7 linked regions of the Homo sapiens genome follow. The protein of the gene in region 5 purifies or fractionates together with the protein of the main gene of each other region. This does not show direct contact. Each region holds a gene or a part of one and is shown on either strand. Other genes may lie near its edges.

Evidence for each region.
Region 1: the proteins of GREM2 (region 5) and ANKRD52 purify together in Homo sapiens (affinity purification with mass spectrometry; one large-scale study listed by BioGRID and IntAct). This does not show direct contact.
Region 2: the proteins of GREM2 (region 5) and RNF123 purify together in Homo sapiens (affinity purification with mass spectrometry; one large-scale study listed by BioGRID and IntAct). This does not show direct contact.
Region 3: the proteins of GREM2 (region 5) and ZZEF1 purify together in Homo sapiens (co-immunoprecipitation; 2 studies listed by BioGRID and IntAct, with this or other methods). This does not show direct contact.
Region 4: the proteins of GREM2 (region 5) and NACC1 purify together in Homo sapiens (affinity purification with mass spectrometry; one large-scale study listed by BioGRID and IntAct). This does not show direct contact.
Region 6: the proteins of GREM2 (region 5) and NOTCH2 purify together in Homo sapiens (affinity purification with mass spectrometry; one large-scale study listed by BioGRID and IntAct). This does not show direct contact.
Region 7: the proteins of GREM2 (region 5) and MKLN1 purify together in Homo sapiens (affinity purification with mass spectrometry; one large-scale study listed by BioGRID and IntAct). This does not show direct contact.

What each region holds. Positions count from the first base shown.
Region 1 is NC_000012.12:56,244,885-56,248,384, reverse strand, and holds part of ANKRD52 (serine/threonine-protein phosphatase 6 regulatory ankyrin repeat subunit C), read left to right. Parts: intron 1-160; coding exon 161-362; intron 363-610; coding exon 611-698; intron 699-774; coding exon 775-892; intron 893-2,788; coding exon 2,789-3,008; intron 3,009-3,194; coding exon 3,195-3,282; intron 3,283-3,395; coding exon 3,396-3,479; intron 3,480-3,500. UniProt on the Homo sapiens protein: Putative regulatory subunit of protein phosphatase 6 (PP6) that may be involved in the recognition of phosphoprotein substrates.
Region 2 is NC_000003.12:49,710,057-49,713,556, reverse strand, and holds part of RNF123 (E3 ubiquitin-protein ligase RNF123), read right to left. Parts: intron 1,079-3,500; coding exon 901-1,078; exon of another isoform or gene 665-900; intron 45-664; coding exon 1-44. UniProt on the Homo sapiens protein: Catalytic subunit of the KPC complex that acts as E3 ubiquitin-protein ligase. Promotes the ubiquitination and proteasome-mediated degradation of CDKN1B which is the cyclin-dependent kinase inhibitor at the G0-G1 transition of the cell cycle.
Region 3 is NC_000017.11:4,014,031-4,017,530, forward strand, and holds part of ZZEF1 (zinc finger ZZ-type and EF-hand domain-containing protein 1), read right to left. Parts: coding exon 3,341-3,500; intron 2,745-3,340; exon of another isoform or gene 2,603-2,744; intron 2,437-2,602; coding exon 2,293-2,436; intron 486-2,292; coding exon 317-485; intron 159-316; coding exon 60-158; intron 1-59. UniProt on the Homo sapiens protein: Histone H3 reader which may act as a transcriptional coactivator for KLF6 and KLF9 transcription factors.
Region 4 is NC_000019.10:13,124,764-13,128,263, reverse strand, and holds part of NACC1 (nucleus accumbens-associated protein 1), read right to left. Parts: intron 1-3,500. UniProt on the Homo sapiens protein: Functions as a transcriptional repressor. Seems to function as a transcriptional corepressor in neuronal cells through recruitment of HDAC3 and HDAC4. Contributes to tumor progression, and tumor cell proliferation and survival.
Region 5 is NC_000001.11:240,609,356-240,613,545, forward strand, and holds the start of GREM2 (gremlin-2 precursor), read right to left. Parts: upstream 2,801-4,190; 5' UTR 2,529-2,800; intron 1-2,528. UniProt on the Homo sapiens protein: Cytokine that inhibits the activity of BMP2 and BMP4 in a dose-dependent manner, and thereby modulates signaling by BMP family members. Contributes to the regulation of embryonic morphogenesis via BMP family members.
Region 6 is NC_000001.11:119,919,663-119,923,162, forward strand, and holds part of NOTCH2 (neurogenic locus notch homolog protein 2 isoform 1 preproprotein), read right to left. Parts: intron 3,117-3,500; coding exon 2,974-3,116; intron 2,785-2,973; coding exon 2,574-2,784; intron 2,148-2,573; coding exon 2,051-2,147; intron 736-2,050; coding exon 567-735; intron 1-566. UniProt on the Homo sapiens protein: Functions as a receptor for membrane-bound ligands Jagged-1 (JAG1), Jagged-2 (JAG2) and Delta-1 (DLL1) to regulate cell-fate determination.
Region 7 is NC_000007.14:131,393,876-131,397,375, reverse strand, and holds part of MKLN1 (muskelin), read right to left. Parts: intron 110-3,500; coding exon 1-109. UniProt on the Homo sapiens protein: Component of the CTLH E3 ubiquitin-protein ligase complex that selectively accepts ubiquitin from UBE2H and mediates ubiquitination and subsequent proteasomal degradation of the transcription factor HBP1.

The sequences.
Region 1 (3,500 bases), on a different chromosome or scaffold from region 5:
AGGGGATAAGCACAGTGCAGGGTAGGAAGCCTTAAGGGGCCCAAGGAGCTTGTCAAGGACTAAGACCTTGAGCTTCCCAGGGACCCCAAGAGCAGAGAAGGGGAAGGGAGGAGCAGGGAAGGTCCCGAGCTGTGTGCACTGGTTGCCTGCACCTTGCCAGGCCTACAACGGTCACTGTGAAGCCTTGAAGACGCTGGCGGAGACGCTGGTGAATCTGGACGTAAGGGACCACAAGGGCCGGACCGCACTCTTCCTGGCCACGGAGCGCGGCTCTACTGAGTGTGTGGAGGTGCTTACAGCCCACGGCGCCTCTGCCCTCATCAAGGAGCGCAAGCGCAAGTGGACACCCCTGCACGCTGCTGGTTAGTGCCCACTTTAGGCTGCTGCCCTACCCTTGCCATGCCAGATCCCTCCTGGATGGGAATGGGGCTGGAAAGTGGAGTAGGGTGAGGAGAATGGAGACTTCAAGCCCTGATTCATAGCTTCCTATCCTCAGAGATTTCTCCCTGGCCCAGGTCTTTCTGTAACATTGACCCCAAGTCCTTTAGGCTTGACCTTGCCTCCCTTCTTCCTCCTGGCCCTGCCCTGACACGGGGTCCCTTTCCCCTAGCTGCCTCTGGCCACACTGACTCCCTGCACTTGCTGATCGACAGTGGGGAACGAGCTGACATCACAGATGTCATGGATGCCTATGGACAGTGAGTGTGGGCCAGGGTGGGGTGCAGGTTTTCCAGTCCTTGCGGGATCCTCACTCCTCCTCCTGCCCTTCTGTAGGACCCCACTGATGCTGGCCATCATGAATGGCCATGTGGACTGTGTACATCTGCTGCTAGAGAAAGGATCCACAGCTGATGCTGCTGACCTCCGGGGCCGCACTGCCCTCCACCGCGGGGTGAGTGAGCTTCTAGGGGGGATTGTTTGCACATGGGCCTCAGTGTGGGAGCATGGGACTCACCAGCAGTAGGGAATCCAATTGTCTAGGAGGCAAGCCAGGATTTTGTGCCGTCTTTTTTCTTTTTCTTTTTTTTTTTTTTTTTTGAGACAGGGTCTCACTCCCATTGCCCAGGTTGGAGTGCAGTGACACTATCACAGCTCACTGCAGCCTTGACTTCCTGGGCTCAGGTGATTCTCGCACCTCAGCCTCCTAAGTAGCTGAAACTGTAGGCACATGCCATCATGCCCAGCTAATTTTTGTATTTTTTGTAGATATGGGGGTCTTACCATCTTGCCCAAGCTGGTCTTGAACTCCTGGGTTCAAGTGATCCCCCCACCTTGGCCTCCCGAAGTGCTGGGATTACAGGCATGAGCCACCAGACCCACGCTGTGCCCAGGATTTTATTGAGCTTTGTGCTTGCTCCAGGATGAGTTCCTGACGTCCCCAGCTGATTTCCCTGATATCTGTGCTTTGTTTATTATTATTATTATTATTATTATTATTATTATTATTATTATTATTATTATTATTGAGATAGAGTCTCGCTCTGTCACCCAGGCTGGAGTGCAGTGGCGTGATCTCGGCTCACTGCAACCTCCGCCTCCTGGGTTCAAGCAATTCTCCTGCCTCAGCCTCCCGAGTAGCTGGGATTACAGGCGCCTGCCACCACGCCTGGCTAATTTTTGTATTTTTAGTAGAGACAGGGTTTCACCGTGTTAGCCAGGGTAGTCTCAATCTCCTGATGATGAGATCCACCCGCCTTGGCCTCCCAAAGGGTTGGGATTACAGGCGTGAGCCACTGTGCCTGGCCAATATCTGTGCTTTGTAATCACGTACAACTGAGTGCTCACCACCCAGACTCTACCTGGGATACCCTGCTGGCCCCAACCCATCGCATAATGTCGCCACAACCTAGATCCTCTTCCGTGACCACCTGTCCTAAGCTGCCTCCTCCTCCCATAAGATTTTTTGATCCCTTAGTCTCCTTCTCTCCATTTAGTCTTTCCAGTATTAACTCCAGAGCTCCAGTATTAACTCTTAGTATCCTGATTGTCTGCTGGCATAGAGAGAGTCAAGGAGGGAGATGTGGGTCCCTAATACTTAGAATTGTTGTTGTAAAGGGCCGGGCATGGTGGCTCACGTCTGTAATCCCAGCACTTTGGAAGGCCAAGGCGGGCAGATCACCTGAAGTCAGGAGTTTGAGACCAGCCTGGCCAACATGGTGAAACTTCGCCTCTACTAAAAATACAAAAATTAATTGGGCATGGTGGTGCATGCCTATAATCCCAGCTACTTGGGAGGCTGAGACAGGAGAATTGCTGGAACCTGGGAGGCAGAGGTTGCAGTGAGCCAAGATCGCACCATTGCACTCCAGCCTGGGTGACAGAGTGAGACTCCGTCTCAAAAAAAGAAAGAATTATTGTTGTAAAGACAAGGATTGAGGCCAGTGGCTCATGCCTGTAATCCCAGCACTTTGGGAGGCCGAGGCAGGCGGATCACGAGGTGAGGAGATCAAGACCATCCTGGCTAACGTGGTGAAACCCTGTCTCTACTAAAAATACAAAAAAATTGGCCGGGCATGGTGGCACCTGCCTGTAATCCCAGCTACTTGGGAGGCTGAGGCAGGAGAATCGCTTGAACCGGGGAGGCAGAGGTTGCAGTGAGCCGAGATTATGCCACTGCACTCCAGCCTGGGCGACAGAGCAAGACTCCGACTCCAAAAAAAAAAAAAAAAAAAAAAAGACAAGGATTGGAGCCCTGGAAGTGGTTCTTACTCCTGAGCCAGACTCCAGCAACAGGCCAGTGGAAAAGGAGGAGCTTTTCATCCCCCTCACACCCCCATGTTACTCACAGGCAGTGACTGGCTGTGAGGACTGCCTGGCTGCCCTGCTGGACCACGACGCATTTGTGCTGTGCCGAGACTTTAAGGGCCGCACGCCCATTCACCTGGCCTCAGCCTGTGGCCACACTGCAGTACTGCGGACCCTGCTGCAGGCTGCCCTTTCCACAGATCCCCTGGATGCCGGGGTGGATTACAGCGGATACTCGCCCATGCACTGGGCCTCCTACACTGGTACTAGACTGGGGCCTCCACAGGCACAGGAGCATGTGTTGGAGTGTGTGTAGAGGGGGACAGGTGGGTTGTTGGGGGGGACCTGGGTTGATCTGAATCTGGAAGTGGAATGGAGTGTCAAGACACAGGACAGACAGGGAACCTTGCCGTTTTTCTCCATCACTACTCTTCCTTCCTCGTGCCCAGGACATGAAGATTGTCTGGAGTTGTTACTTGAACACAGCCCGTTTTCGTACCTGGAAGGAAACCCCTTCACTCCTTTGCACTGTGCAGTGTAAGTCCCTTCTGCTGCATCAGCCCTTCTCGCGAGGGCCCATGACTTGAGCTTAGGACAGGTAGTCTACTTCCCTTGTCCTTCCTGATGACCCCTCCTCCCTCTTCCTCTAGGATTAATAACCAAGACAGCACCACAGAGATGCTACTGGGAGCTCTGGGTGCCAAGATTGTGAACAGCCGAGATGCCAAAGGACGGTGAGTGATGGAAGACTTGGG
Region 2 (3,500 bases), on a different chromosome or scaffold from region 5:
TTTGGCGAGAATGGCAGCCAGGCGGGTCAGGGTCTCTTCATAGCCTGCAAGGGTGGGAAGTGAGACGTGTCGGCTGGGAGTGGGGGCTCCAGAGGCAGGCATGTCAGCAGGGTGGGTGGACTTGGGTAGCAGGCTCTAGAGCTGGCTCCCAAGGCCAGCCTGGACCCAGGGTGGCATCTGGGGACATCGGGCAAAGCATTCATTGGTGGCTGTGCAAGGGCTAAGGCACAGGCTCACTGTGAAGGGATGACAGGCCCTGGCAGGAGCCCTGACCTGGGCTCAAACCCATCTCAGCACACACACCTGATGAGCAGTCAAAGCTCCTTGGGCACTCACAGCTCTGTCTTTGAAGACAAAGCCTGCACTGAGGCCTGTGGCTGGGCAGGGGGCAGGCTAGGGGCCTGACAGCTCACTGCCTGATCCAGACATACACTGCCACGCCCAGCCTGGAATCAGCAGGCTGAGAGGCCCAGGTTCGGATGTGGACCCTAGCAGGGTCCACCCCCTGCTGTGATTTACCAAGACAAACCATTCTGCCCCTGACCAACTGCTACGCTTTGTGACCAGTGCCAGGGAGTCAAGGTGCAAGGCCAGCTGGCTCCTGGACCATGGCAGTTGCTCATAGCACTAGGAAGGAAGTGAAAGCCAAGAGGTCTACACCCACCGTGTTCCATCTTGTCTGTTTTCCTTTGCTAGGGAGCTGTTGGCTCTGTGGCTGCAGGTCCCAGGGCAGGGTGCAGACGTTTGTTTGCTGCAGGGTGAACCACAGAGGAAGCTCCTCCCCTCCCCGCCCCCCACAGAAGTGTGTTGCTGGGCCACAGAGGTCTCAGACCAGGGCTCCTAGGGCTCACACTAGAGACCCCTTTTCTGCTTCTGCCTCAGCCTGAATGGTTCCATCACCTGGGAGCTCCTCCATGCTGTGCACGGGACCAAAGTAATTCTTGAGAGCACTGTAGCTGTTGATGGCCACGCTCAGGTAGAACTCGGGCATGAAGGCAAAGAGAGACCCTGTGCGATCACCGTGCTCAATGGTCCGCAGGCAGACGCGCAGCAGCCAGTAGATGTCCAGCATCTTCTCCTGCAGGAGGCACACGGGGTGCTGCTGGGTTGCGCACCAGTGGGGTCTTGGGGGCATGTCCTGGCCTGGGGATCAGGAAAGGCCTCCCCAGGCCTACGACAGCACAACTGAGACCTGGATTTCAGGAAGCATGAGCAGTAGCTCAAGCAGGGCAATCAAGTCCTCAGCAGGCAAGAGGGACGCACTCAGCCTGGAGGGCGCATTACTGTGACCCAGGCCAGAACTCTGGTCAGCATATTTGTAAGCAAGTTTTTTTTTTTTTTGAGATGGAGTCACCCAGGCTGGAGTGCAGTGACGCCCTCTTGGCTCACTGGAAACCTCCGCCTCCCAAGTTCAAGGGATTGTCTTGCCTCAGCCTCCCGAGTAGCTGGGACTACAGGTATGTGATACCGCGCTCGGCTAATTTTTGTATTTTTAGTAGAGATGGGGTTTCGCCATGTTGGCCAGGCTGGTCTTGAACTCCTGACCTCAGGTGATCTGCCTGCCTCAGCCTGTAAGCAAGTTTTAGGCAAGAGGGTGCTGTGACTGGAAGTCTGTGTGGAAAAGTGGAGTACAAGGTGTGTGAAGGGCCCAAGAGAGCTGGCGATGGTAAGCAGACAGGCAGAAATTTGATCTGGAGTGCAAAGGAGAAGGTGGTGGGAAAGCAGGGGGCAGTGTGACTGGTGGAACAGAGGTCACAGGAAACAGACAAAACCTGCTGAGGGCCCTGCTCCCCACAATGTGGTTTCCACAAAGTCTATGTCAGGGTCTCACAAAGGAGCCCAGGCAAGAATGAGGCCTCAGGCCCCAGCCCAGACCCACAGCACCCGTGTGTCTTGGAGTGCGGTCACAGCACCTGGGCTTCACACCAGCTCTCTGATGTGCCCTAAAGCCCAAGGAACTGAGGAGAAGATGTAAGCAAGAGGTTAGGGGAGGGCCTAGGCGCAAACCTAGGCAGCGATGATCCTGCTGCTACAGAAGGCCAGCGAAGACTGTGTCTGGTGAGGGGCTGGCAATGGCCCCATCAGAGCTAAGGTATCAATGCAAAGGAGATGGAAATGTGCCGGCCGGATTGAGATGGGGGCAGACAGAGACCCTGGTGAGACTATTTCAGAGATGGGGAAGAGCCTGTGCTGGAGGGAGATGAAGGGGAAGATGTAGCAGCTAAGACAGAGAAAGAAGGAGAGAGCATAACTTTTGGGCACATATAGCGTCAAGGCTGGAATGCAGTGGCACAATCACAGCTCACTGTAACCTGGAACTCCTGGGCTCATGTGATCCTCCTACAGGTATGTGATACCACGCCCTGCTAATTTTTGTATTTTTAGGAGAGATGGGGTTTCGCCATGTTGGCCAGGCTGGTCTTGAACTCCTGACCTCAGAGTAGCTGGGACTACAGGTATGTGTCACCATGCCCCGCTAATTAAATTTTGTTTTTTTTGTAGAGATGGGTTGCCCAGGCTGGTCATGAACTCTTGGCTTCAAGTGATCCTCCCGCTTCAGCCTCCCAAAGTGCTGGTTTACAGGAGTGAATCTCTCCATTAATAATGGGATTAGAAAGACACAGGTGAGTTAGTGCTGAAGATGCAGAGAATGAAGGCAGTTCAACATAATAAAGACCATATATGAAAAGCCTCCATCTAACATCACACTCAGTGGTAACAGACTATAATCCCTCCCTCCCTCAGACCAAGAACAAGACAAGTGTGCCACTTTCTCTACTTCTGCTCAGCACAGTCCTGGAAATCCCAGCCAGAGCAACTAAGCATGAAAAAGAAAGGAAACCACACTGGAAAGGATAAAGTAAAATTATCTCTGTTCACAGACATGATTTTATAAGTAGAAAATCCTAAAGATACACACACACACACAAAACCCCAACTAGGATTAATAAATAAATTCAGCAAAATTATAGGATATGGCCAGGCGCGGTTGCTGAAGCCTGTAATCCCAGCACTTTGGGAGGCCGAGGCAGGCGGATCACCTAAGGTCAGGAGTTTGAGACCAGCCTGACCAACAAGGTGAAACCCCATCTCTACTAAAAATACAAAAATTAGCCGGGCGTGGTGGCGTATGCCTATAGTCCCAGCTACTCAGGAGGCCGAGGTGGAAGAATCGCTTGAACCTGGGAGGCAGAGGTTGCAGTGAGCCAAAATCTTGCCACTGCACTCCAGCCTGTGCCACAGAGCGAGACTCCCTCTCAAAACAAAACAAACAAACCAACAAACAAAAGATATGCAAATGGCCAATAAGTGCTTGTAAAGGTACTATTTGTCATAATGTCACTAATCATTAGCAAAATGCAGAACCACAATAAGGTACCATATCCTACCCATTAGGATTTACTATTAAAAAAGTAGAAATTGCCGGGTGTGGTGGCTCATGCCTATAATCCCCGCACTTTGGGAGGCCGAGGCAGGAGGATTCCTTGAACCCAGGAGTT
Region 3 (3,500 bases), on a different chromosome or scaffold from region 5:
ACAGCCATGGAGTGTCCCTGGCAGGCAGATGGTGTGAACGCAAAGCCCAGAGCACACACCTGTCTGGAACCGCCCCAGGTGTCCGGCCGTCACGGTGAATCTGTAGCCCCACTCGGTGTTGCTCATGTCGGAGGTGAAGCGGTAATACAGAGTGTCTCCTAGGCACACAAGGATCAGAGGCCCATCAGGAACTGAAGCAACAGGGAATGGCAGCAGTGGTGTTGGGTTTCAACATTCTCCAGTAAGTTCCCTTCTCAATATTAAGTTTAAACACTGCCTGTGAAGAACCTATCTAATCGAGTATTTGTTTCACTACCTGGAAGTTCAAAATCTTTCCACTTCTGCTGAGACCCGCTGAAGCTGTGTCGGTCTTGCTGGAAGTCACTGCTGCTGGACATGGCTAACTCGTCACAGCCCTCCTCTGTGTTGCACTGAGAGTCGAATTTGATTGAGAGGTAGATGGCACCAGGAATGTGAACTTTATCCTAGGGAGGGGAAATGGAGAACACATCTGTCGATGCTGCTCACTAGACACTGACTGCAGCTGTCCCATGCCGAGTCCTGTGGCTGGACCCGGGTGTGTGAGAATGAGTGAACCACAGCCCTGGCCTCCAGGAGTGCAGAGTCCAGCTAGGGCGAGGAGCATGCACAGACTGCAAATATGGTGCGAGGGAGGCACAGCGGGGCAGGCAACACGGGGCCCCAGAGAAAGAGTGTCAGGCTGCTGTGAAGAGTGAAGAGGACAGGAGGACCCTGTTAGGAGAAGGCGGGAGTGGGAGACAAGGTGGACCTGAGTGCATGGGGTGCATTTCAGACAGGGTAACAGCCCTGTGAAGGTCTAGCATGTTCAGGGAATGGCAAGGAGCTTGGCGTGTTTGGAGTAAAGGGTGTGCTACATGGGCACGTATGCTTGGGAAGCAGGAACAGGGACAAGACCTGACTCCAGAGAGACTGGCAGGGGCAGACACTGAAGGCCCTGGGCATGAAAATGAGGCACTCAGACTCTGGACAACAGGGAAAACCCTGGAAAGCTTTGGTGAGGCTTGCACAGTGTAGCATCACTGACAGCTGGTGTGGAGCAAGGCTGGGCTGAGGCAAAAGTGAGGAAATCAGAAAGTAGCAGCAAAAGGAACCCCAGAGAAGGGCAACGGGTGTCCAGGGTCAGTGGAGAAGACAAGACCTCTTTGGGATCGAACCTGGTGGCTGACCACATGTGCCTGTATGGGACCAAGGGAGTGGGGCTGGAGCCCAGGAACATGACAAGAGAAGAGACTTGGAAGAAAGACAGGTTATACTTCTGAAAAACAAAATCTCAGCTGGCCAATAACCCAGTTCTAAATCGGTTTTCATCATCCACCTTCGCTGCTGCAGGTGCCTTCCACTCAGAAGTAGATGCCTGGGCAACTCCAACATTTCAGTTTTCTCTCCAACATTTTTAAAAGCGCTAATGGGGGCCAGGTGAGGTGGCTCACGCCTGTAATCCCAGCACTCTGGGAGGCCAAGGCGGGTGGATCACCTGAGGTCAGGAGTTAGAGACCAGCCTGGCCAATATGGTGAAACCCCGTCTCTACTAAAAATACAAAAATTAGCTGGGCATGGTGGCAGGTGCCTTTATTCCTGCTACTAGGGAGGCTGAGGCATGAGAATCACTTGAATTCGGGAGGTGGAGGTTGCAGTGAGCCGAGATCACACCACTGCACTGCAGCCTGGGCGACAGAGTGAGACTCCGTCTCAAAAAAAAGTGCTAAAGGGACTACATGGCCTTAAGTCAATGAGAATAACGGAGGCTGCCCCATTCCTGCCTCATCAAAATGCCTACCTCCCTGCCCAGGCACAAAGTTAAGGATGGAAAAGATGAGACTCTGATTCAGTTCTGGGAAATTTTAAAAAGGGGCTGTAGTATCCACGGTGGGGGCAGGTCATGAGGTGGCAGCTGAAGAGTGAGGGTCCAACCTGGACCACATTCAGACTCACTGTCTCACTGTGAAGCCAAGGACTCACTCTGAGGAGCCTGCCGCAGGGAAAGTAAAGCTCTCCTCCAGGGCTAGGTGGCCCATTTTCTTCTATTAAAACAAGAAAAGTCCGGAGAAGAGAAGACTTGCTTGTACAGAATCCCTGGCCTCAGGGAGGCAGACTGCAGTTTGTTCAAGGAAGCACTTTCCTGGACAGGTCTCTGCTGTCCAGCGGGAGAGAGCCACAGAGGGGCTGAGCATGGAGGGGCTGAGCACGGAGGGGCTGACGAGGTCTCTGCGGCTCAGTCGCTCTTATGGGGCCTGCCGGCCCCAGGCTTACCTCGAAGTTGGTGTTGTTGTTATACGGGTGTTTCGACTCCCTCACTTGCACCTCCATTCCTGGCTCCTCCATGAACTGGCATGCAGCCAGGGCCATGGTCCCCAGCATGTCCTCTCGGCAGCCCTGGAGCACTTTCTGCAGGATCTGGTGGGAAGCAGACAGATAAGGTCAGGGCCTGCAAGTGGCATCAGGAAGAAGGGACAGTTTACTTCAACCCAAGCTCCACCCAAAGGTGCTGGCATCATCTTAGACCTAGGACGAGCCTCTGTGACTCCACCACCCAAAACCAACTCCACCAGCCACCTCTCACTTGACCAGGCTCTTGGTGTCAATCAGGACACTGCAGTCCTTTCAGAATGATGCTACTTAGAGGTGGTCTGAAAGAACTAACTGAACCAATCATAAAGGGTCCTGGTCCTTGAAGGAGTCCCCAGCCAAGCAGGTGGATTGGCCTATGGATAAATAATGACCACACAATGTAATCGATGCCTGGAGTGAGGTGCAGGGTTGGGAGCTCTAGGTGGCAAGAACTGTGGGAGGACACGCCTATGCAAGGGCCTAGTAGAGGCAGGGTGGCTCCCTCTGTCCCTTCCGAAAGATAGATATGCTAGAGCAAGCCTGCCAGCACCTGCAGGGCTGCAAGGCCGGGAAAAGACCTCGAGGTCTGGTGGTGTTCTCAGATGGACAAAGCAAGGCTGAGAGGCCAAATGAACTTCCTCATGGACTGCGTGTGTGTGTGTGAAGGTGGGTGAGGGACAGGATCAAAAAGGAGCTACCGAATGTGCCTCAAGATTTCTGCACTTGGAAACTGGGAAGATGGCGACAAAGCTTTCTGGTTCAGCTGGAAATCGCGCTCAGGGCCCCTGAGTTCCTCACTAGCCCAATCCTTGGGAGAGGATACAGTGACCCTACCTTTGCTGCATTCACACCTGTCAGGGAGCTGCACAGCCACACAGGTAGCCTCGCTCCAGGAAGCACTCACTGGAGGAAGCCTGTGGGGCAGAGGAAGAACCTGGTGGGTGAGCACAAGCTCAGTCTGCATAACTACCTTCTCCCACTCATGCTTTTCTTCCAGCTGCATGAACATATCCAAAATGTAGGTCATATGGGCAGGGCCACTGAGCTCCAGGATGTCCTCGCTCACTGGCACGTGGCTAGGCCACTCGGCGAGCAGGGATGCAAGCACGTGGCGGGCGTACAGGACAGCT
Region 4 (3,500 bases), on a different chromosome or scaffold from region 5:
TGGCAGCTTGAGCTGACTAAGACAGGCCTGAAGCACCATCTATTCACTGATGCCTCCCCCACTGGAGTCTTTGGCCCGGACTTCCCTGTGAATGCCAGACTCGCACACACCCCAGACACCTCCACTCAACAATTTCAGGACCTGGCTCCAGTCCTTCCCAAAACCTGTGAATGCCGTAGCTTCACCAGCTCTGGCCCTCCTCATTCAGATCCTTGGATTCATCTTCAACTCCTTCAAAACCACTTTGTACTACCTTGGCCCCAAGTGACACTGCCTGGGCCCCTACAATGCTTTATTGGGGCCCCTGGCAGTCTGGCCCTGCTTGCTCTCGGACCTACTAGAATGGGAATGGGACAGCCATAGCTCTTCATACTCTCCCTGGTCACATAAAGCCCTTTCTCTACTCTTTTGCTTTTGGAGACAGGGCCTTGCTCTGTCACCCAGGCTGGAGTACAGTGGCACCATCATAGCTCACTTCAGCCTCAAACTCCTGGGCTCAAGCAATCCTCCCACCTCAGCTTCCCAAATAGCTGGGACCACAGGAGCTACATCCAGCTAATTTTTTTTTTTCTTTTTTTTTTTGAGGCAGAGTCTCGCTCTGTCGCCCAGGCTGGAGTGCAGTGGTGGGATCTCGGCTCACTGCAAGAATCGTTCAAGCGATTCTCCTGTCTCAGCCTCCTGAGTAGCTGGGATTAAAGGTAACCACCACCATGCCTGGCTAATTTTTCTATTTTTAGTAGAGATGGGGTTTCACCATGTTGGCCAGGCTGGTCTTGAACTCCTGACCTCAAGTGATCCGCCCACCTCCCAAAGTGCTGGGATTACAGGCGTGAGCCACGGCACCCGGCCCATCCAGTTAACCGAAAAAAAAAAAAAAAAAAAAAAAAAAAAAGTATATGTATATGTATGCTTTTTTTTTTTTTTTTTTTTGGTAGAGACGTGATCTCACTATATTGCCTGGGCTGGTCTCCAACTCCCAGCTGAGTGTTCCTCCTGCCACAGCCTCACAAAACCCTGCGATTATAGGCATGAGCCACTGCGTCTGACCAACAAAGCCCTTCCCGACACTAACTCCCTGGCTTGATTCTCCCTGCTTGACTTATCCTTCTTGGGAGTTCCTATGATTTATTTAGCAAGCTGGCCATTTTTCTTTTTCTAAAAAAAAATTATTTATTTGTGCATTTTTTAGTAATAGAGACGAGGTCTCCCTAATGTTGCCCAGGCTGGTCTCAAACTCCTGGGCTCAAGTGGTCCTCCTGCCTTGGCCTCCCAAAGTGCTCGGACTACAGGTGCGAGCCACCACCCCTGCCAAACTGGGCATTTTTTGGGGCTTCATGTCAGTTTCCCTGGGGCAGGGAGTTTGCCTGTGTAGATCCCTGTTGTGTCCTCTACCCCTAGGACCTGGCCAGGTACACAGTGGGTGCTCACAGTCCTTCGTGGAAAAAATGAACAAAGAATTACTTCCATTCCTCCTAACCTAACTCCCTGTTTTGTTCCACATTAACGTGGCTCAAACAGGAATAGGGCTCAGAAGCATTATCTGTGGCTGGGCAGACAGACGACCTCCTTTGACAGCTGCCAAGGTGGGTAGCCAGCAGTCAGGGGCCTATTGAGACCGCAGTGTTACCTGACGAATTGCTCACACTGCCGGTGGATCCTGCCATCTGCAGGAAGGGGGCTGGCAGGATGATTCCTGGGAGTAGTAACTGTCAGCTCTTAGGGAAGAGAGCTGAGGAATTCCCCAGCCAGCATGGGCCTGTGAGAGACTGTCAAAGGCACAGTCCTTTCCTGATGTCTTTCCAGGGAAGCTGTGACATGGCCGTCGACAGATGCTATGGTCTGAATGTTTGCCTCTTCCCAAAATTCACATGCTAAAGCCTATCTCCAATGTAGTGGTATTAAGAAGTGGGGCTGGCTGGGCACGGTGACTCACGCCTGTAACCCCAGCACTTTGGGAGGCTGAGGAGGGCGGATCACGAGGTCACGAGGTCAGGAGATAGAGACCATCCTGGCTAACATGGTGAAACCCCATCTCTACTAAAAATACAAAAAATTAGCCAGGCACAGTGGTACGTGCCTGTAATCCCAGCTACTCGGGAGGCTGAGGCAGGAGAATCGCTTGAACTCAGGAGGCGAAGGTTGCGGTGAGCCGAGATCGGGCCAATGCACTCCAGCCTGGTGACAGAGCAAGACTCCGTCTAAAAAAAAAAAAAAAGTTAGGCCTTTCAGCCAGGTATGGTGGTTCACGCCTGTAATCTCAGCACTTTGGGAGGCCGAGGTGGGCGGATCACCTGAGGTCAGGAGTTGGAGACTAGCCTGGCCAATATGGTGAAACCCCATCTCTACTAAAAATACAAAAATTAGCTGGGCGCAGTGGTGCACGCCTGTAATCCCAGCTATTAGGTAGGCTGAGGCAGAATTGCTTGAACCTAGGAGGTGGAAGTTGCAGCGAGCCAAGATCACGCCACTGCACTCTAGGCTGGGCAACAGAGCAAGACTCCATCTCAAAATAAAAAAGAAGTTGTTGATCAAAAATTTAAAAAGGGCTGGGTGCAGTGGCTCACGCCTGTAATCCCAGCACTTTGGGAGGCAGAGACAGGCGGATTACCTGAGATCAGGAGTTCGAGATCAGCCTGGGCAACACAGTGAAACCCCGTCTCTACTAAAAATACAAAATTAGCCTGGCATGCTGACACATGCCTGTAATCCCAGCTACTTGGGAGGCTGAGGCAGGAGAATCGCTTGAACCTGGGAGGCGGAGGATGCGGTGAGTCAAGATCGCACCACTGCACTCCAGCCTGGGCAACAAGAGTAAATCTCCGTCTCACCAAAAAAAAAAAAAAAAAAAAAAGTGGGGCCTTCGGGAGTTGATTCAGTCAGGAGGGCTCTGTCCTCATGAATACGAACTGTGCCCGTATAAAAGAGGGGGAGCTTGTTTGTCCTTGCCACCCTGTGCAGATACCTAAAAGGTGCTATCTATGAGAGATGGGCCCTCACTAGACACGGAATCTGCTAGCACCGTGATATGGGACTTCCCACCCTCTACAACTATGAGCAGCTCATCTCTGTTGTTTATCAATGGCCCAGTCTGTTTTGTTTTTTTGAGACAGGGTCTTGCTCTGTCACCCAGGCTGAAGCGTAGTGGTGCAATCTTGGATCACTATAGCGTCAAACTCCTGGGCTCAAGTTATCCTCTCACCTCAGCCTCCTGAGTAGCTGGGACTAGGGATGTGTGCCACCACGCCCGGCTAATTAAAACAATTTTTTGCAAAGACGAGAGACATATGTTCTCAGGACCTCCTGAGGGCTGTGTCACGGGTGAAAAACAAATTAAAATTAAATTTTTTTGTAAAGATGAGGTCTCACTATGTTGCCCAGGCTGGTCTCGAACTCCTGGGCTCAAGCAATCCTCCCATCTCAGCCTCCTAAATGCTGAGGTTAGAGGCATGAGCAATGTGCCTGGCTTCCAGTCTAAGGTATTTTATTACAGCAGCCCAGAT
Region 5 (4,190 bases):
TCAGTGTTGAGTCTGAGGACCACATTTTAGCCTGACATGTGATCAAAATTAATTCTAGACATTATTAGGCCTATTATACCTAATATTATTAGAAACAAAAGAACTATCAAGAAGCAGCTAATCCAAGAAGAAGATGGCACCATAGGTCTAATTTTTAATTGAACACCTTGTCCTTCAAAACAATGTCTTGTGTGACCCATTTAAGCCGAGTGCTGGGCACGTTTTCCCTGGTTGAAATAATTCTTTTTTGTCCGTAGATATTTGAAGGACCCTGATACTGAGAACATGCCTGCAACCTGGCACGTTGCACAGGGGCAATTGCTGTAGCAACACTGAAGTACAAAAGTGGCTGAACTAATCTGTTGAGTGCCTGTGCCTCTGCAGTCTCTCAGTGTCTGCCCTTGACCCAGACAGGCCAATCCTCTCCATATCAATAAGAACTGAGAGTCTAATACCATTCCTTTGCATTAGAAAAAGAGATGTTTACTTTAAAGAGATTTAAAGGCATGTACCTTGTTTAAACTTTACCAAACTTATAACTCGAGGGTATGTAAAGCTCTGGCTGGCTCTACTAAGATTCATAGAGAATGAACTGTTGATTACCTCTCTCGGTGAAGAATGATAGCAAAAAACAATGAATAATCACAGCATTGTTTATATTTATCTTTGAAAAGCCATCAGTGTCTCCTAGTCTATACAAAGTGAATATAATCCGTCTCACACTCACAAAGTTGCTACCAACACACCCAACATTGCTTTAGAGTTAGAAAGATAAGACAGAAATAGGTCCCAACTTATTGCAGCTATTTTATTTATAAAAGATTGACAAATGCTCACAATCATACAAAACAACTCTTTACCAATAGAATGTAGTTGGGTCGATTAACTTATATTTATTTGCACAGATCAGTTCTTTACAGTTTCTTTCTGATGTAAAAGGAAAAAAAATTTATCTATAAAGTTAAAATGCCTTCTCCCAAATATAATATTCACTTGCCATGTCTATACTTTGACACGATTTCAAAAAGCACCCAGTTAAATCATTCAGATCAGTCGATGGGCAAAAACTATGAAGTTTTCCTGACTCTATGGTAGAGCTAAGCATGCATTTCCTTTAATGACAGAAAGAACATGTTCATCTGATAAGAAACAAAAAACAAACAAACAAAAAAAGGTCGATATAAATTCTCCACTGTGATATACAACACAAATACCTTTCTTATAACTTTCTTATCTTCCTTGGTCGGGCACATGTCTTGGGACAAAGGCTACCTTGAAAGCTAAGCACGGCTGAATGGTGAGTCGATTGCGAATTATCAGTGAATGGTTTGGATATGATCGACTAAGACTCCACTGGGAAGAGTGCTGTTTAGACGAAAGGTAAGGTATTTGATTGCCCCTGCACCTGCTGCAGAGCCATTCTCTGGCTGTACTGGAGTCCCAATCTGTTCCACTGCAGAAAAAGCGCTTTTCATAGGGATTCAGAGCCACATGAATACCAGCCAGCCCTTGAAGACTGCAAAGCAAGACCAATTTTTTAACTGACTTCTTGCAGTCCCCTCTGGCTTTTCCCAGGAAAGACTGAACTCATTAAGCAATGCTAATTTAATCACAAGTCATCAAGGGGTGGGGAGTTATATAACTATCTTTAAAATTTCAAATCAAACATGATAAAATCTCAGGAAATAGATTTTTTTAACAAAACCCACACCTCAAAATAAAAAAAAAAAAGAAATAGAAGTTTATGAGTTTTAGGATCAAATAAAATAAAATCAAACATCAATATTTTCTTACAACTATCACATCTACTAGATAGTTCCAATTCATGACTTTTTAATGTAGTAATATGTGAGATCCTGGAACTGAACGTGCCTGGCGTGCAGAATACAAATGCATTTTTAAACTCGTAAGACAATGTAGAAATAAGTCAGGTACACAGGAAGGATCACTGACAATCACGTTAAAAAATAACTACCTCCCTTCTCTCTTCTCCTTCAACCACAGCGTAGTGATAATAGTGATATTTCCCTCATGAGGCGGGTGCACCTTGGCCATATGCTTTAAAAAATCAAAACTCTGCCGAAGTCCGCTGTGGTTCCTATTCCTGTAGGGAGGATATTAACCTGGTAGGTAGGTGGGAGAGGTTCGTAGCCCGCTTTCTAACAATTGGATGGTGTTTGCCTCGCTATAGTCATGATTAGAATGGCGGTCACCAAGAGGTATTTATTGGTGGGATGACAACATATTGGTATTGACGTTATTTAAAAGAGAAAGAAAGAGCGATCACGGTCAAGTTTGAAGGTCCTTATGTTACACCCACGCATAATTCAATAGGTGAATAAACCTTGTGGCCCCCAGACACACGCCAACAGCTTGAATTACCCGGGGTGAAACCGGCGAGACGTCCACTCAGGGCTTTCGGTCCTGACCAGCCACGGAACAAACAACGTCAATTCATTCTAAGTGCCTGGTGAAGGTAGAAATCAGAAACCGTGTCTGTGTCACGTTAGTCGTGACAAGCTGCGTACCTGCAATGACGTGATGGAAGCCTCCTCCTCGGGTCCCTTCTCTCTCTCTCTCTCCCTCTCCCTCTGCCTTCTCTGAGTTCTCTAGTCCACAGCGGGGTCTAAGTTTGGTCTCCCGCCGCCGCTTTCAGTTCGACCGCAGCCAGACTGCAGCAGACGCCCATAAGAGAAGCGCGCCGGCTGAGGGTGCAGGAGAGGCGAGAGCGCGCCCCGCGCCGCGCGGTCCCAGGCTGGCTGCTCCTGCAGATGTGAAAGGAGCCCGGAGACTTAGCTCTGAATCCTCTCGGCGCTGCATGGGGATATTATCAGAGTCTGGGATTTCTATTGGCTCTGAACACCAAACAAATCACACCAGCCACCCCCCTTCTCTGTTTCACTCAGCGCTTGTTTCTCATCTAACCCACAAACATTGCAGCCACACCACACACTTCAGTCGCTTGCAATGTTTCTCTTTTCCTCCTTCCAGTCAGTGGATTTACAACCCTGTGGTCAGCTCTAACATTTTTTTTAGCAGACTTCCAATTCTAACCTTCTTGTTTATGTAGAGAAATTCTCCCTCCATCCCCTAAACCAGAAAAAAACAAAAAACAAAAAAAAAACACTCATTCCCTTCAGATCTTCTTCCTTTTGCTGATGGGTTTCCAATGTGAAGAATGTAGAAAGCCTGTGTGTGATATGTCTGACATTCTCATACACGTGCGCTTACACACACACACACACACACACACACACACACACCAGGCTCCTTTTGTTTGCAGTAACTGAGGCCAGTGAAATAAAAAGCAAGCTGAGCCTAATAACCTAAGTGAGAGCTTAACTAATAAAATCTTGAATGAATTCAGTGCAAAACACCCATTGCTTGAATTTGTTTTCTGTTCCAAATAGTACTTTGGTCATTATTATCCTGATTTTTGTTTATTGAATGCAGAGGTTTCTAATGCAAATCAGACTCTTCAACATCCAGAGAACATAAAACAATGACGCCAGACCAATTCTTGTGCTCCATCGGCTTGGTGCGTTATACCAGAAGCGTATTGTGACGCCTAAGTGCTTGCTCTTTTCATTATTTTTTGAACTTCTCACCACTGATCATCTCAGGACTGAGACTCCCTTAGTGTGATTCACCAGCCAAAGACGACTATTCAGACTCTGCTGATAGAGGTTCCTGGATGAAAATTTTTTATCTGTATGTGTCAATAGAGATAAACCTTTGGCCCCTTGGCAGGGAAAGGGCCCAAGAAAAATCTGAGATCTTACAAACTTGGCTGGGGAAATTCAGAATAAAATAAAGTTTCAGTGTGTCTTATAAAACAGACCCTCCCTTAGACTTTTCCCCAAAATCAATTTCACTGGTGCTTATGGAAATTTTAATGACAGTTATTCTTGACAAGAAGCCATTGCTTCTGAAATCTCTGAGCTCTGTTTTGATTTTTGACTTGAATTTTTTTTTTGCAGTGTTATCCCTTTTGTATGCTATTTGGTATTTGATATTCTAGTTCCAACTCAACTCACAGCACATTGGGTTGCAAATTCACAGGAAATAACAATTAGTTCTTGAAATATACTATCACCAAACAGACTACCTGCCTTCTTTCTTACGTGGGCACATTACAGGAATTGTGAAATGCAGCCTTATTCTCAGAATGGGCCTGCCTGAAATCAGCT
Region 6 (3,500 bases), about 120 Mb from region 5:
AACCCTATGGTTGAAACAGCTCTATTTGACTAAAGTTATTCTTAGGGGCAAAGAATTCCCTGTACTTCTTGTAGTAACTGGTTATTAGTTTCACATTTGCCACCTTTTCCTCTGATAGTATCATTTCTGTAAAGAATAATGGGAAAGTACAAGTCTTTTTAAGCTGGGGGCTCTTCTCTAAACACGTTTTTCTGTTCAAGTTTAAGTGCTGTTATTTTAATTGGACATTTAAAAATATCTAATATTAATAGAACAATTAATACATGCATAAGATACTAACTATCCTCTGCTTTGGGATATTATTTTTCTATCCCACTACAATCTAACCCATTTTATCAGCCTGTTTAGTCTCAACACACTGTACATGAAGCAATGTGAAATCCTTCCCTTTCTGAGCTGATAATTTCTTTGTGGCTACATTCCTTAAGCATTCATTTCCTCGAGCTGATTTAGAGTCTGTGAAATTGGGAAGGGGTTTATGACTGGACAGGGCAAACACAGGGACAACAATGTGGAACCATGGGCAGACACAGCCCAGTGAAGAGGGGAAGAGGCCCGGTGCTGACCTGGGCCACGGACATTCACATCTAACACATCCACCTCCTGCTCTGCCTGAGGAGGGGTGAGAGCCAGCGATGGTGTCCTACGGATGTCTGCAGCTTCAAGGTGCTGCTGTGTCCATGGCCGTCGATCAATGGGGTCATCTTCTTCTGAGAGTAAGGCCTCATCTTCAGCCTGAAAGGTGAAAACAATGCTCCCTATCAATCTGGCCACCACCAGAAACTGCTAATCAGAAGGTGTCCAGAGCCTCCACCACCGCTGCTTATCTCCCATTGTTTTCTCTCTTCCTACTCCTCCACCCCTCCAGAGGATTACCTCAGCCTTGGCTTCCCACTGCTCTCGTGATGTGGCTCCTGCTTACCTTTCCTGCATCATCTAGACAACTCCCTCCCCCAATCCCAAACTCTAGGCTTTAGCCTTTAGATCTCCAGAGCACCCAATTCTCACTTTTCCTACCCTCCACTAGAAAGTAAACTTTAATTCTTCTTGTTGGCCCTAAAAAGCATACTCTGCTTACCTCTGCTTAACTGATCATGTGTTAAATGCTTACACAGCACTACATGGCCATCTCCACCACAAGGCTGTAAGCTTCTCAAGAAGGGAAAATAAGCCTTGTTCAAGGTTGTTTCCTTGTACTCAACATAGCACCCAACATGTAGTAAGCACTCAGGAAAGACTATTCAATAATAATAATCATGATAATTTAAAAGCAGCTACCCTTTACTGAATACCTAGTACATGACAGGAAAGTAGATAAGGCACATATGCCAACACAACAACTCACAGAGGAAAGGGTTATTATTATCCGCATTTTACAAGGAAGGATAATTACAAAGAGGTTAAGTAACTTGCCAGCTACTAAGCGGCAGAGTTTTGGATTTGAATCCAGTTCTGATATTAACTAAAGCAATCTTCTTAACCATCATGCTCCACCAGCTCCCAGCCATGCACAGCTGTGGATGGATGGTCTGCTTTTTCATGTCAGTCTCAGCCCAATCTACCACTTGCTTTTATATGGCTTTAGTTTCCTGGGCTCAAGGTATGGAGCCTCCAATGTCAACGTTTTGCCATGATCACTGGCTTTCATTTTGCCAATGTCAATGATAACTGGCTTTCTTCCACTGCTTAATTTCATCTTCTCTTATAGAAGAAGTGCCCATAAAGGATAAGGAAGAGATGTGGCCATGAAGGAATTGCCATCTACACACACCATTCCTGACTTGACTACTGCCAGCATAACACTAAAGGAAACAGATGTGCTTAGTATTTTTAAAGAGTTATTCTTGAAGAGCATATATAGGTAACCCAAGGTCATTTACGTCCTAAGGATTCCTGCTGTTTAGGAGAACCTAGGATAGTTATTGTCTGGGTAAGACATCAAGACTATCACTCTTTACTCCCATTCAGGACACTCTGGAGCTAAAGGACAGAAATTTGAAATGTAACCAGATAATGGCTGACAATGGTGGTTCTACCATGGCCACCTCACCTTTACTTTCTTTGGCTGGGGCCCTTCATCATCGACCCAGTGTTCACTTGTTCCAGTACCAATTAGGTTAGCTTCTGAGACTTGCACTGAGAGATTTCTAATATGATTATAAAAAGAAAAAATAAGAATGGCAGTCATAAACTAATACAGTGGTTTTCAACACTTTCCACCATGACACACTCCCGTGGCTATATTACAATTTTGCAGGGTCTTGGCCCAGAGAAGATGGGCAGTATTTTTGGTGACATTCCCTTGGCATTCATCCTTTCCCTTCCCATTGATCGTGAGCTTACAACAAAAGGGCACCTCAACACAGAAGCTGGGCGGCATTGTGATAATATACACAGAATAGATGCACCCACGCTCTGACTGTGGTTTCAGTCACTCACAAGGCATTTAGAATCATGGTCAATGTGAGTAAATGCCCAGAGCTTAGAATTTAAAATCATGATTCAACAAGATATGCTTTTCTAGTCATCCCTACTTATACTGTGAATAGTGGCTTATTGGCAATGCCTCTTACTTCAGCCCCACAGCATCCTGTCCCACTGGCTCACGACGCTTGTGATTGCTTGCATCTCGGCGAAGAGTGAAACCTTCAGGCAGCCAGAGAGAGCCATGCTTACGCTTTCGTTTTGCCATGATTACCCCCAGCAGAATAATAAACAGAATGATGACAACAGCAACAGCAAGGAGATAGAGGAGCTGAGTGCGTTCTGGAGTCAGGGATTCACCTGAAAGTCCACAGAGACAGGGAAAGTGCTGAATAAAACATTAACCTCTCAATGTCAGCATTAGATTCATTTAGAGGGCAACTTTGACCTCAACAGTCCTGAAAAAATAGAGGGCTACATAATGAAAATTGTTCCCCCAATTGACACTCTTCCCCCGCCACCTTTCCCCTTTACACCAGTGCCACTCACTGACGACAGACACAAGAGGGTATGACAGGGTCCCCTGTATGGCGTGAGAGGCCAGGAGAGCTGCTGCTGCATCCGTGTTCTTGAAGCAGTGGTCTGAGTCTTGAACACACTGGCGGTTGTCAATTTCCAGAAAGACTTTAGAGCTGTGGGATGCCAAGGGAGAAGCGGAGGAGGAGAGATGGGGGTAAAACAGAAGAGTGCAGGTCAGGCAGAACATGTCATAAAGGGTGACAGGAGCCTCCCTTCCTCCCCTTCAGCATCAGGTCCCCACCTCTGGGATGCTGCCTTAAGACATATCTCAGGAATTAGAATACTGTCCCTTGAGATCTTAAACACTAATTCCCACATAGAGGATGTCCCACCTTCCTTAGTCTGGCTGACCAAAGCCTTCTGGCTGAGGCAATGCATGACAAAGTGAGAAGCTGTGCTTTCCTCCCGAAGGTTTCAGTGGTCTTCTTCCACTCTTTCATACCTACTCAGTGGTACTTGGTGCTACTCTAAACATACATCCCTGTGTGTTTTTAGTC
Region 7 (3,500 bases), on a different chromosome or scaffold from region 5:
TTGCTATACCAGTTGAGACAAGGTTGTACTATATCAGGATCATCAATGCCACTAAGTTCAACATACCAGATGCTAAAGTTAAAGCTGGGTCCCCAGGACAAGAGTGGAACTTTAAGGAGAAAAAACAAAAAGAAGAAGAAAAATATTAACACAGTTCAAATAAAACTTTAGCAAAGTAAAAGCACTATTCAACCTTATAAGGATTCATTCAACGAATTTTCTGGGCATCTTTTATATGACTAGCATGGTGCTAAGGCTACAACAGTAAAACGAAACAGATGACCCATGCCACCATAAGATTTCCTTAGTTAATAAAAACACTGTAAGATAAATTAAAAATGTGCACATGTCTACCCCCAAATAAATGCCACCAGAATTAGATGATTTAACAGGTAAATTTTATCAAATGTACAAGCAGCAAAAAATTACTTTAGAATTTAGTCTACATCAGAACACTGAAAGAGACTGAAATTATTTATCAGTGGCACAACCCTGAAATCCAAATCAGAAGAAAAAAGACTTAAGGCCAATCACAGCTATGAATACATATTTAAATACAAATTAAAAGGAGAAAAGTTGCAAAAAATTCTATCAGATTTTCATTGTAACCAAACAGATCTCATTCCAGGAATGGAAAGATGATGGTTCAATAAATAATAGGAGCTATATTAATATAATCTACCACGTTAACAAAATAAAAGAAAAAACACATTTGATGACTTAAATACATTATTATTTTTAAACCCTCAATATATAAGCAATATAAGGCAATAAAAAATTTCCTTAGATTTTTTTAAAAAGCATCAAAAACCTTAAAAATTAAACCTACTGGGAAAATACTAAATATTCCCACTCAAGTCAGAACAAGACAAAGATGTCCAATATCTCTACTATTTGTCACTAATTAGAGGTCTCAACCAGTGCAATAAGGAAACAAACAAACAAATTAAGAAAAACGAATTGTAATTTAAAGATGACCTGTCTACCTAAAAAAATTCAAGAGAGCCAGGAGCAGTAGCTCAAGCCTGTAATCCCAGCACTTTGGGAGGCCGTGGCAAGAGGATCACTTGAGGCCAGGAATTCAAAACCAGCCTGGCAAACACAGTGAAACTCTGTCTCCACTAAAAATAGAAAAAATAGCCAGTCATGGTGGCGTGCGCCTATAATCCCAGCTACTTGGGAGGCTGTGGCAAGAGAATCACTTGAACCCAGGAGGTGGAGGTTGCAGTGAGCTGCCATGACACCACTGTACTCCAGCCTGGGCGACAGAATAAGACTGTGTCTCAGTGGAAAAAAATATATATATATATTCAATTGAAAAACTTTTTATTTGTAAACAAGGTAAACACACAAAAATCAACTTTTCCTATACCTACAATAACCAATTAGAAAATATACCTCAAAAAAGTCCTATTTATAATGGCAAAAAGCTGAAAATACTTCAGAATAAACTTAAAATACGCAATATTTATAAGAAAATATAAAATTTTAGTGAATAATTGAATAAATGAAAGAACATACTATGTTCCTATATAGGAAAACTCAATATTGTAAATGTGTAGCTCTCTCCAATTAATTATAAATTTAACATCATGTCAATCAAAATCCCAATGGTCTTTCCAGAGGTCCCACGTAGTCAAAACTACTTTTTTTTTTAATAACAACACTAGTTATTTTTCAAAACAACTATTTTTCAAAATAACATAATAAACACTTTTCTAGCCTTTTAATAATAGCAACATTGCACTAATGGTACAAAAGCAATGGTGTGTAAAACTGCTAGCACCTTGGTACCAAACTAATGGCACCAAAAAGTACTATTAGTGCTCAGTAAGTACAAGGTGCACTGTATGCCTCACCACCATACACTGGCAGTAAAATAAAATAAAATAAAATAAAATAAAATAAAATAAAATAAAATAAAAATAATTTTTACCAATGGCACAGAAAAATTAATTTTATTAAATTCCCATCAAGTACACATCTGTCTAGTATCCTGTGTGACAAAATGAGATTTGCATATAAAGCATTTTTGTTGTGTACCAAACCACAATGGTTATCTCAAGGAAAGGACCTGTACAATTATTTAAGTTGTGAGTTTAAAAATCAATTTATTTTTCATGGAATGCCATTTTATTCTTGAAAGAAAAACAGACAACCTATGATTATTCAGATTTGGGTATTTGCCAAACATTTACATGTTATTTCAAGGAAAATACTTAACGATATTTGCTGTCAAGGATAAAAACCAAGCTTTCAAGAGAAAAATTAGAATTTTGGAAGATAAGTACCCACCACTGTGAGCTTAACTGATTCCCAACACTTAGATTTTTTTAAATGAGATTAGATGTGATATTAATAAATGTGATTTTTAAAATATTACATAATGAAGTGTTTCAACATTTGGGAGATCTGTGTAATTCAGTGAACCATATTTTCTAAATAACCAATGAATGTTACAAAATCACACCTGGGTAAAAAGTCCAAGACAGACCACTGGGTAAAAAGTCCAAGATAGACCAGTGAATTTTAATGTAACAACAGATTCACTGATGCAGTTTCAGAATCAATAATGCAACTATCTTTAAGAAACTAACATTTGTAGAGTTTTGATGAAGCATCAAAATAGAATATCCAGAATAGCTGATACCAGGCGTAATGATTTCCAATATCCGACTGAATAAGGAAAATGTATGGGGTATGATACTTTTATATATTTTTGTCATCTAAAACAGGGGTCCCAAACCCCCAGGCCCAAACCTGTACAGGTCCCTGGCCTGTTAGGAACCCAGACGCATGGCAGGAGGTGCGCAGTGTGTTAAGGGAGCATTACTGCCTGGGCTCTGCCTCCTGTCAGATCAGCGTTGGCATTAGATTCTCAAAGGACTGCAAACTCTATCATGAACTGCAAATACAAGGGATCTAAGTTGTGCACTCCTTATGAGAATCTAATGCTTGATGATCTGAGATGGAAAAGTTTCATCCCAAAACCATCTCTCCACCATACCCTGCCCCAACTTCTGGGTCCACAGAAAAACTGTCTTCCACAAAACTGGTCGCTGGTGTCAAAAAGGTTGGGGACCACTGATATAAAGGAAGCTGTGTGAATAAAAACACAGGCAGTAGCAACCAGCCATAAGGATGTATGAAGGAATGCTGGGATATTTAATATGCCTTTCTGTTTATGTATGTAAACAACACACATTTCAAAAAGTTTTTTTTTAACAACAAATATTAAATTATCTTTATTGTTTTAGTGTTTCTTTATGTAGCAGTGTCATTTAAAAGTTTATCTACTAAATCACATAGCAATAACCATCTAGTAGTATAAGAGTCAGAATAAAATAATGATTCTAAACTAAAAGCACCAAGAATATAGTCTATATATGTCACCAGACATAAAATATTAGAGATTTCCAGGTCCAAGTCTCATTAAGAATTCATTTATTGGTCCTGGTGCAGTGGCTCATGTCTGTAATCCCAACACTTTGGGAGGCAGA